2 separate regions of the Homo sapiens genome follow, and region 2 is linked to region 1. The links come from fine-mapping of genetic effects on gene expression. Tissue or cell type: cerebellum. Region 1 holds a variant in brackets; the other region holds the start of a gene. All regions are shown on one strand. Distances are from middle to middle.

The links. PIP is the estimated chance that this variant, and not a neighbour inherited with it, causes the effect.
Region 2: DNAH2 starts here. The variant in region 1 is fine-mapped to the expression of DNAH2 in cerebellum (GTEx, PIP above 0.99).

The regions. Positions count from the first base shown.
Region 1 is chr17:7,775,733-7,779,732 of GRCh38, reverse strand. DNAH2 (dynein axonemal heavy chain 2) reads right to left here. Exons shown (of 86, transcript NM_020877.5): 31 at 3,584-3,709; 32 at 2,844-2,954; 33 at 2,099-2,287; 34 at 1,553-1,656; 35 at 1,264-1,453; 36 at 310-490. Among named protein-coding and RNA genes, the nearest start is that of KDM6B, 56 kb to the left of the region's middle. The variant A/T (reference allele first, on the strand shown) is at 2,484.
Region 2 is chr17:7,712,383-7,720,126 of GRCh38, reverse strand. It overlaps DNAH2 (dynein axonemal heavy chain 2), which reads right to left and starts at 2,383. Exons shown (of 86, transcript NM_020877.5): 1 at 1,328-2,383; 2 at 227-406. The coding sequence starts at 392.

The sequences.
Region 1 (4,000 bases):
AAAGAGATGGCAGAGAGACCAGAACTCTTGGAGCTAGCCTAAAGGGAGAAGAAAGCTAAGTATCTTAAAAGATGAGGGCTACATATACACACATAAGTGGTTATTAATCCCTTTGGGGAAAACAGTAAGATTGCTTCCCCTTCTCCCGGAAAGTTGTGTTTATCCTTCTCTCCCCTTTGCTATCTTTAGCCAGACTTCACTTAGCTATATACATTCGCATGGAAGGGGGAAGAGGAGGATGCGCAGTTATTTCCCCTGAACACCCAGTTCTTCCCACCCCAGGAGTCCCATCCACTCCCTGCCACCTACCAGGATTCATGGTAATGAAGATCCCACAGGACCACACCAGATTTATTTCAAAGCCATCAAAATGGAAATGGGTGAGGCCGGCAGCCAGGGCAGACAGGATGCACAGGATCTGGTGGGCCACCACTGACAGCACCTCGATGTTGATGCGGTTAAACTCATCAAAGCAGCCCCAAGCTCCAGTCTGCGGGGTGCAAGGCAGAGTCACTGGGAGCGAGAGGTGCCCCAAGAGGCTAGAAAGCGTGATTAACGCACCCTTCCTTCAAATGTTTCAATAGGCGAGGCGGCCTCCAGACTAGGGGGCAGGGAGGAGGGCACCAGAGTACACTGTTGTAGCTTCTGGCCAGAACTTTCCATCAGATGGGGCCAATCTGGGGTGATGCTAGAAAAGGTGTGGGTTGGAAAGAGACTGGGGTAGGGAACTTGTGTGCACTGTCTACTCTGCTCCAGTTAACACACATTATTTTCTTTAATCCTTTATAATCTTCTGATTTTGCAAATAAGCTACATGAAGCTCAGGAAGGGGAAGGGACTTTCCTAGTTGTAAGAATTATACGTGGCTGGGCGCAGTGGCTCACGCCTGTAATCCCAGCACTTTGGGAGGCCAAGACAGGTGGATCACCTAAGGTCAGGAGTTCGAGACCAGCCTGGCCAAGATGGTGAAACCCCGTCTCCACTAAAAATACAAAAATTCTCCGGGCTTGGTGTCACACGCCTGTAATCCCAGCTACTCAGGAGGCTGAGGCAGGAGAATTGCCCGAACCCAGCAGGCAAAGGTTGCAGTGAACCGAGATCATGCCACTGCACTCCAAAAAATAAATAAATAAATAAATAAGAATTACATGTGATGCAATGTCATGAAGCTACAAAGCACTGAACCAGATTTGGGTTTCAGTTTATTTTCTGGGACGAAAAGGTATTTAAGGGGCTTCTGGCACAGGGTGGCAGGATACTGACCTGGGCCAGACCTGAGTACATTCGGCCCATGGACTTGTAGTCCAGGCCCTCAGAGCAGTTGACCACAATGACATATATGCCCAGGGCCTTGCCCAGGTCCTTGACGGTCTCGGTCTTGCCTGTGCCTGCAGGGCCTTTGGGGGAGCCCCCTCGGTGCAGGTGCAATGCCGTGGTCAGTGTCATGTAACACCTGAGAATTGAGGACAGAACTAGAGTCAGACTCCTGGAAGCCTCTCTCAGCTTCTGCTGCCCCCCACCCCAGCCACCTCATTCATCCCACATGGCAGACCTGTCCGTCAGGGGGGTGATGACGAGCCGGCCCGAGTTACCCAAGTACTCATAATTATACTGAAATTGCGTGTTGGTCTGGCGGATGACACAGTCATCAAGATCCTGGGGAAAACAGCGCAGAAAAAGAGAGAGGTGGGCTTGGAAGGAGAGTTAGAGCTGGGACAATGACTGAGAGTGGGGCTCAGAGTTGTCAGGGAGGCTGCAGTGAAGGGATCAGGGGTTCCCTTTTAGAGTTGAAAAGGGGAGCGGTTTATGGGCAAGATGGAAAATGGGTTTCATGTTGCACATCCACCCCGACCCAATGCAGCAGCTGCCTGGAGTGTTTCTGAGTCCTGTTCAAGTGACATTCATAGTGAGCCCTGACTGGGACAACTACTTGCCACTCCTGATTGTGGGGAGGAGATGGAAGGAAGAACCGGATTAGGGTAGTGGGACAGGACTAAGGGTTGGCTTAGGATATCCTTGCATTTACAGAACATGGATGCAATAAAAGCATTAGGATCCATTTTACGGTAAGAGAGTGGGGAGGTGGCCCATCTGGCACCTTCTCCCAGTAGAACCGAAGTTGGCTGAGCCAGTCAAAGGAATTGACATCCATGAGGCCACTCTTGTAAAGCTTCTCCAACACATCCCGGGCATGAATTTCTATCGTCACCAGAGCCACAATTTTAAGCCGCATGATCTTGGTCAAGTTCCCCCTGATGGCTTCTGAATACTTATTCAGGATTGACACCTGTGGCATGAAGCAGCAGGGAAGAGAGCAGACAGAGCAATGCCGCCAAAGCCTGATCAACCCTTGCCCCTACCCAGCACCGCTTCCAACCCGGTGCTGACCCCACCTGCTGTAACTCCTGGTAATTCTGCTCTACCACGGACTGCCCCCACTGGACTTCCATCATAAAGCACCCTCGCTCTGGCCCTTTTCCACC[A/T]GCTCACCTCTAATTCTGACTGCTCCCTCCCTGCAATTCTAGCTCCAGGCCTAGCCCATACTTGCAGAGCACCCACCTACTTTTTTCTTTTCTTTTCTTTTCTTTCTTTTTTTTTTTTTTTGAGACAGAGTCTTGTTCTGTCGCCCAGGCTGGAGTGCAGTGGTACGATCTTAGCTCACTGCAGCCTCAACCTCCTGGGTGTGCCACCAGCTAATTTTTGTATTTTTTGGTAAAGAAGGGGTTTCGCCATATTGCCCAGGCTGGTCTCGAACTCCTGGGCTCAAGCGAGTGGGCTCCTACCACCTCTGCCTCCCAAAGTGCTGGGATTACAAGCATGAGCCAGTGCGCCCAGCCTCTCACCTGGTTCTTCTTCATGACCTTGAGGATTTTCTTGTCTGCCCGCTCCTTCGCTGTCAGCAGGCACTTGGTGACATCAGCCGTCCACTGGATCTGACTGGCAGTGATCACCACCTGGGGATGTGCAGAAGCCACGTCCCAAAGCCCTGTCCTTGGCTACACGCACAGCCCAGCTCCCAAGTCCCAGCTAATTCAAGAACCATGTGCCTCTCCCAACTGCACCCAATCTGCTCTGAAGGATGGGACATGGGCCTCAGGTCAGGAGCTAAGGGTCCAGCTTGGAGTGTACCAGAGCCACAGCTCAGAAAGGGGGGTAAGAAACCACACTGTGTGAGACTCAAGATTCTGTCTTTCCACTGGCCACCTCCTTTTAACTCCATCTTCTCGTTCCCTCATTTCTTCATTTCTTTCTTTTTTTCTCTTTTTTTAGACAGAGTCTTGCTTTGTCACCCAGGCTGGAGTGCAGCGGCACAATCTCGGCTCACTACAACCTTCACCTACTGGGTTCAAGCTATTCTTCTGCCTCGGCCTCCTGAGAAACTGGGACTACAGGAGCACACCACCACACCAGATAATTTTTTGTATTTTTAGTAGAGACGGGGTTTCACCATGTTGGCCAGGCTGGTCTTGAACTCCTGACCTCAAGTGATCTGCCCACCTCGGCCTCCCAAAGTGCTGGGATTACAGGCGTGAGCCACCGTGCCCAGCCCCTTGTTCCCTCACTTCTGTTGACCCCAGCTCACCTGGCCAGCCCACTCCTTCACCCATTTGTCCCTCTTGTTGAGGAACTTCCTGAGGGCCAGGTGGCAGTTCCGGAGAAGGTCCCGCAGGGTCACCCTCATGGTCTGTTCCACATCGCCAAGCCAGGACTGGGGGGAGGTGGGAGAATAGGGCAGCTCAGCCTGAGGGGGCACGGCCAAGGTCCTCCACAGGGAAGGCACTTATGGAGCAGCACTTCAGGGCTTTGTACCCAGAGAAAAGCGGGAATGGCCAACAGCTGGCTTGCGTTCCTGAGAGAAATGGAGGCTAGGAGGCAGATGATCTGACTTTCAGAAGGAAATTTCGGTTCAGAGCAGAGATGGTCATTGTCAGGAATGGCAGGTGAGATGGGAAAGAGTGACTAACGGCCATTTAAAGAGGTCTTCTCTCCTCATGGAGCC
Region 2 (7,744 bases), 61 kb after region 1:
GAAATTTTAAGACAGAAAGAACAAGGATGAGGCTGGCCAGGAGGAAGACATACAAAAAAAGGACTCAGTGGCAGGGCTGCTGAACCTCCATGGCTGGGGGCGTCACTTAGCCCGTTTCCTGCCCAGAAGCAACAGCGCCTGCTCCCCAGCCCTAAAATGCCTCCAAGCCCCTCTGACTTTCCCCACCCTCCATTGCTAAGCATCCTCTGCCCCAGCAAGTACCCACCAGGCTCCTCCTTGGGGAGCTCAGCCTGCAGCTCTGGCTCACTGACAGCCGGGGCATTCCCCTGCTCCTGTGTGGCCACAGCAGCCCGAGTGGCCCGCCCTGACCAGCTTGCCTGGGAGCTTCCTCGGCCACTCAATCGCTGCTTCTTCTCAGCTTTGCTGGACATCGTGCAGGCAAAACCTACAGGTATACAGGAGTGGAGAGTCTACAAGCAGATACCACCCCTGAACCAGCCCCCTGATACAAGCAGTCCCTTTTGAATTCATAAATTGACTGAAACTCAATATGATCATCTTTTCTGGTGGTACCCACACCCTGCTCCATTAACCACAAGGGCTCTGTACTCCACAGGGGCCTGGGAGGCCTTGCTGTTTTTCCCTAGGATATCCTACTGTCTTCGGGGCACTGGGCTAAAAATCAAAGTCAGTCCCTCAAGGCACTAGGAACAAATGGGAGTTAAAGATGATGGCCAGGCTGGGTGCGGTGGCTCATGCTTGTAATCCCAGCATTTTGGGAGGCCGAGCCGGGTGGATCACCTGAGGTCAGGAGTTCGAGACCAGCCTGGCCAACATGGCAAAACCCCGTCTCTACTAAAAATACAAAAAATTAGCCAGGAGTGGTGGTGCGTGCCTGTAATTCCAGCTACTCGGGAGGCTGAGGCAGGAGAATCTCTTGAACCCGAGAGGTAGAGGCTGCAGTGAGCCAAGATCATGCTACTATACTCCAGCCTGGCTGACAGAGTGAGACTCTATCTCAAAAAAAAAAAAAAAAAAGATGGCCAGACACCCCACTAATGAGGATTTAGAACCTCTATCTCTGCCCCGGGGTATGAGAACATAAGATAATCAGGAAAAGATCTATCAAGCTGAAGTGTGGTTGCCCAAACCCTCATCCACTCTACCCTCCAGGACCATGAGTGAGTGAGAGAGGATCAAGGAAGGGGTGCACATCCCCCATCCTTTGTCACTGTTCAATCATTCAAGCAAACCAAGATGATTTTCCTATGTACCTCTTTTCCTCCCAAGTTAAATGGAAATATGCTCCTCCCAATCCCACTAAAATCTGCAACATCTGTAAACAGAGAAAAACAGTATTTGCCACCTGGGTCTATCGCTTTGAAGTCCTGAGGGGCAGGAACACTGTTTTGTGTGTACTGAGGTCTCTTAGCAGAGTTGGCTGAGGAACTCTGTGCTAATGGTTAAGATCAGTCAGGATCATTTATTTGACTCAAAATGCCCTGAGAACAGATTGGAAGAAAGAAGGACAAAAGTCATCCAATCATAAATTTCAAATTGTGTCATGAGGAAAAAGCAATTGGGGCACGAGGAAGGTCACAGTGGTGCCTCTCTCAGAAAGGTAGGATGGCAGGAAGCGGGGATCTCGGACAGGTGCTCAGAATCCCAGGCGCAAAGTCTGAGGCGCTGGGCACTCTCTTTTCATTAGGCTGCAGCCTAACGGCACCTGTGGCTCTCCTTCCTCATCCCCACAGGCTGCCACAGGCATTGATCTCAGGTTATGAATTTCAAACTTGAAGGATTTGTACTTTGCTCCAAGGAAAAACGTTCTGTTAGGCCAGCAAATCAATAAAACCAACTACAGCAAGGAGGCTTCCTCCATCAGTCTCCAGAGAAGCATCAAGCTGCGCTTTCCTGCCTCAAACTAGAGCCTGAGGCGCATGCACCGTGGGGTTCACCACGCGATCCCACACCGCAGGCCCCAGGAGGAACTGCTCTGCTAAGTCGGGGCTCACTCTAGTACTAGGAAATACCGCAGGGGCCAGCAGTATTTATCCTGCAGTATAAATCCAGCAGTATTTATCCAGCAGTATTTATACCAGCAGCTGGTATCCTTAAACTGGTTACCAGCAGGCAAATTTCCCCTCAGAATGGCTCTTCCCCCCCAGCTGTCACAACTGCCCCTTCTCCTCCCCCTCCCCCACACAAATATTCCTTGCTCCCTCTCCCTCCACAACTGCCTCTTCTCCCCAACAACTGTCCCTTCCTACCCCGACACTACTGCCCCTTCTCCCCAGCACTCCTTCCCTCCTTCCCTCTGCCCCCGACACACACCTTGCCACGCTGACCCTCCCCTCCCTAGACCGACCGATGGGCCACTCTAAGAAGTTGCCCCTCGCAGCCCTCTCGGGCCGGCGTCTGCACGCGTCCCCATGGCAACCCCGGGCAGGGAGGGGCGAGTGGCCGGTGTGCGGCCCCTCGGAGCCCGCCTCCTCCGCGCAGGCGCCCTGGATCCCTGCTTCGCGGCCCCACCCCGCCCAGGTCTACCCCTCAGGGACCCAGGGCTTGAAGGCTCCGGGACTAAAGGAAAGTAGCCACATCTGGCGAGCCGAAGGGTGCGGGGGGCCTGGTGTCAGGACCCAGCTGGAAGGGCTGGGGCGAGAGACAGTGAGCCACCGCCCCGCAGGACATTGAAAAGGCAGGGAGAACCCAATCGCCCGACCCCGCGCCCAGGTCTGTGCGCCCCAGCCGGAACGGGTCCAGCAGATGGCGCCGGGCGCCAGGCCGGCGAGGGATATTCGCGATGTAGAAGGCGTTCCAGGATTTCCAGGCAGCCGTGGGTGCAGCTGGATCCGGGGGAAAAACCGGGCCTGGAGCACCCTTGCCCTCCTGCTCCTTCCCCCTTCTTAGTTCGGATTGGGGTCTAGGATTGCGGGGGGGCGGCGCGGGGCGGGGAAAGGGAGGGAAGACGGGAACTGGAGTTTTGGGAATCTGAGGATTGGCTTTCGAAGGCATCGCTGGTTTTTGGGGGGGATGAGAGGCGGGGACTCCCTGGGGAAGGTGACCGGGCCTGGGAGGGGCTTCGCTCTCCATAGGAACAAAGGCTGCGTCGTGAGAGAGGAGGCGAGAGGGGAGGGCTATGAGGGCCGGGGTACATCTCCGAGGGTGCCAGGGGGCGCTGCGGGCCGGGGCTGCTAGAAGGCGCCTGGAAGACCGCTGTACCTGGTGCCGGGAGGAGCTTTGGGGAGACCTGGGAAATACAGGGAGGAAGCCGAGTGGGGGGATGGGAAGGCGCCCTCCCTGTTTCCATCAATAGTGCCTAATTAAGACAAAGCCAGCAGCGAGCCCACTGATTACATTTCCATGAGGAGCGAAATTTATGACATTTTCTTTGCTGGATGAGGAGAAGAGAAGCTGGCACCTCAGTTCCCCCATTTTCTGTTTGGCGTTCACACCTAACAGATCTCATTATGCCAGCCTGGCACTACCAGGAGTGGCAGTCCCTGGTACTCCTGAAGAGCAAGTGGATTAACCACACCCTATCCCAGCGCTGACCTCACCCTCCCACCTACCGTATCTTTATTCCCAGAAGTGTCAACCCTTTCCCTCCCCCCGACCCCCAATAATTCCTCCTGCCCAGCCAGACTCCTGTTGCTGACAGCAGGAATGGAAGGAGAGGAGTACCGCCCACCCCAAAACCAGCTGCACAGCTAGCACAGCTAAGATGGAACGTGGAGGTGTTCCTCTAGCCAGATAGGCCATGGGTGGCAGACAGAGGTGATGTGGTTGGCCAGAACCCCTAGGGAAAAGTCCCAAAGGAGTGAAAATTTGCTGGAGGCGTGGGGTGGGGAGCCTCAGGGGCAAGGTTCATGGGTCCCTCGGGGAAAGGAACTTTGCACAGACCCCATTTCTTTTCTTAAACCCCCCTCCCCAACTGTGGCTGTGCCTACGGATCCCAGCCCCCCACATTATGCTAAATAGGTAATCAAACATCTCGCTTTGCTAATTACTGCTCAATCCGATTAAACGCTGCTGAAGCTCATCAACAGAGGTGGAGGTAGGGGGAAGGGACGAAGGCGGGGCAACCACAGCTAGCTATGATGGGGGTCTTTTCCCCAGGGGCTCTTCGGGGCTAGAGAAACAGCCAGGGTTGCAAGACCGTGTACATCCCAAAGGAAAGGGCAGAAGAGTTGTGACCTCGAGCCTCAGCCTTGCTGCACCTCCCAGCCACGGCCCTTTTCCTCCTCCCAGAACCTTCATTACCCTCCGAACCCAGGCATCCGGCCATTCCCACAGCTCCCCACACACATCCCTGTCCCAGATTTAATAAGTTCTGTTCCCTCATTGTCAATATTTGATTTCTCAGAGCCATCTCCACGGAGAGGGGGGTGGGGGATCTTTCCTTGCCTCCCCCCTACTTTGGCCCTCTTTTGCCCACCCCCAGTCTCTTTGTGCCCCCAACCTTCTCTGAACTTGCTGACTTAATGAAATGATATTAAAGTCTTAAGCAACTCCAAAAGAATGGTTGTTATGGTGAAGGGAGTGGGCAGGACGCCTGGGTCCCGGAGGGGAGCAAAGGCTGAGGAGGGGGAAAGGGAGCCAGAGGCTAAGGTCTAGAGACCCCAGTCCCTAGTGGGGAACAGCAGATTTGGGGTGAGCTGGGGGCCAGACCTCTGGATCTTGGCTGGAAGCAGGGGATGAGGACTGGGGGCTAGGAGAAGGTGGAAAGAGAGGTCCATTCCAGGGGTCAGGGTCTCGGCCTGCTGTCCGGATCATTCATCAGAGACAGAGGCCAGGGGAGACAGGGCCTCTATGCCAGCAGCCTCCCTGCCGGCTGTGCCCTGGGCTGGTCCCGTGAGAACCAGAGTAGATTACTCTACAGCCTGACTCATCCTTCTCCCCCAGCAGCCCCCCACAGGTGATTTGTAGCTGATGCCCCCACGATGGTAGGGGCCAGGATAGTCATTCCATGACATGAAGAACTGAGAGCTTCCAGGACAGAAGAGAACAGAGGCCAAGGGAAAGGAAGCCAAGCACCCCCCTTCACCTCCCCCCACCCATCCCCATCTCCCCTGGGGACCCTGGCCCAGCCCCAGTCCCCTTGGGGTGGTGGGAATGCAAGGACATTTGGCTGGGGCTGATTGATGAGGGAGGAGGCAGCCACCGGGCACTGAGGCTGCTGTTTGCTGAGCACACAGATTCCTCCCAACTCACCAGCTGCTACCCCCTGAAGCAGCTCAGTCTCCCCCCGACATCACCCCGCCAGCCACTGGGGTTGCGGTGCCTGAGTTTCTGATGGCAACTGGAGGAAGAGGGAGAACCAGAAAACTGAACACTTCGATTCCCTGTGGGAATTGGGGTACCTGGGGCCTGGTCCCCTCAGAACTCCCTTCAGAACTCCACTTTCCCTGCTACCTTTCAAGTAGCTCTCTGGCTGCCCAGTTGTCATTCCCATTCATTCTGTGTCCCTTTTCCTTCCCCCACCCAACTCTGAGCCTATGCCAGACAGCCTCCTGCCTCCAAACCACCGTGTGACATTTCTCCCAGGTCTCAAAACTCTCCCAAGCCCCATGTCCACGGTGGCCCATATAGCCCCTTAGGAAGGGCCATTTTTCATTCTAATTAAAATTCCAGATATGATGTCAACCATTCCGCATCAGAAATTCCCACTGCAAGGCCAGGCACAGTGGCTCACATCTGTAATTCCAGCACTTTGGGAAGCTGAGGTGGGTGGATCACCTGAGGTCGGGAGTTCAAGACCAGCCTGGCCAATGTGGTGAAACCCCATCTCTACTAAAAATACAAAAAATTAGCCGGGCGTGGTGGCACATGCCTGTAGTCCCAGCTACTCGGGAGGCTGAGGCACGAGAATTGCACCACTGCACTCCAGCCTGGGCCACAGAGCGAGACTGTCTCAAAAAAAAAAAAAAAGAAAAGAAAAAGAAAAGAAATTCCCACTGCCACTCCTTGCCCCATTCCCCTTTCCCTAAAAACCCCCAACACACACACACACACACACACACACACACGCACACACACACGCACCTCGGGCTGAATAGTATCCCTCAGCTGCCGTTATTTGGAAGGAGGGCAAAGCCTGAGCTTCACTCTACAGCTCAGCCCCAAGACAGCCTCAATCCTATGCGGTTTGGGGATGGCAGGGCGACAGCTCTAGCTTCTGTGGTCCCAGCCCTCTCGGTTCCTTTACTTCCGCTCTGCCTTCCTGCTCTGGACTCTGCCAGCAGCTGTGCCACAGCCCCCAAAAAAGCTCAGAGCATCATCCTTGCCCTCCCAGAGCTTAAAATTTAGACGAGGAAAACACAAGTCACAGACACACAAGAAACAAAAGGCAAGGGGATGGGAGACTGAGTGAGATCAACTTCCTTAATGTGGATCCAAGACCCTAAGTGACTTACTCCCCTCCAGGCCGAGGCTAGGGAAGAACAGGACACATCCGAAACATGCATGTGGTGGTGATGTCCTTCTTACTGTTCCCAAACACACCACAATCTCACCTCTGTGCCCGTGCACTTGCTGTTCCTCTGTCTAGCATGCCCGTCCCCAGTGTGCATGGCTTACTCCTGTCTCATGACTTAAGGTCCTGATCAAGGGCATCTCTTTCAAAGGGACCTTCCTGACCTCCTCATCTAAAGCAGCTCCAGGCCGGGTGCGGTGGCTCATGCCTGTCATCCCAGCACTTTGGGAGGCCAAGGTGGGCTGAGCACCTAAGGTCAGGAGTTCGAGACCAGCCTGGCCAACATGTTGAAACCCCGACCCTACTAAAAATACAAAACTTAGCTGGGCAAGGTGGCGGGCACCTGTTAATCCTAGCTACTTGGGAGGCTGAGGCAGGACAATCATCGCTTGAGCCCGGGAGGTGGAGGTTGCAGTTAGCCGAGATCGCGCCACTGCACTCCAGCCTGGGCAACAGAGCAAGATTCCATCTCAAAAATAAATAAATTAATAAATTAATAAATAAATAAAGCAGCTCCTGGTTACTCTCCATCCTCCTCATCCTGTCATTCTGTTTTGTTTATATCCCTTTTCACACCTGAAATTGTATTATTTCGTTCCCCACCTAAATGTGGACTTTGTGAAAGCGGGGACCTGGCCTTACTCACCCTGTCCTCCCAGCGCCTGAACCGGTGCCTGAAACAAAGTAGCATTTAACATGCTGCTGAGCGAGTGAACGAACAAACCAATGAACAAACAAATGTCTTCCTGTGCCTGTAGTCGTTTTGCTGTAGTTGTTTTGTTGCAGTTGTTACTCTAGGAATATGTGTGTGTATTTGTCCCCACAAAGCAAATAGGACGGCCTGTGTTATTCTGCGTGGAAGTCACCAGCATTTTCAAATAGCTCCAGACACCCAAGTCACTACACATGTGAAAGGCTGTTGGTCTTGTGCTATTCGAGCGGGGCTGCGGGGAGTCTCTGGATGCCAGCGCTCTGAGGGGGCGTGTCCCAGGCGCTGTGCAGTCTGTGCTGTTCCTCTCCCTGGCTGTGCATCTGTCCCCAGGTGTCTTCCTGTCTCTCAGCATGTTATGATGTCTTGGCTGCTTTGGCGAGGTGCTTGTCTGTCACGGAGACTATTTATCCCCACGTCTCTTCCCTCTTGTCTCTCCACCTGTGCCTCTAGATGTAGGTGGAGGGGGAGTCTCCCTGATCTCCCTTGCCCCTCACACACCACCCTGCCCCAGTCTTGGACCCCTCCCTTTCTCAGTGGGCCCTGTTGCTGGGCTCTGGGTTGCCATAGTGACGGTTGCCAAGTCCCTGAGGCTGATA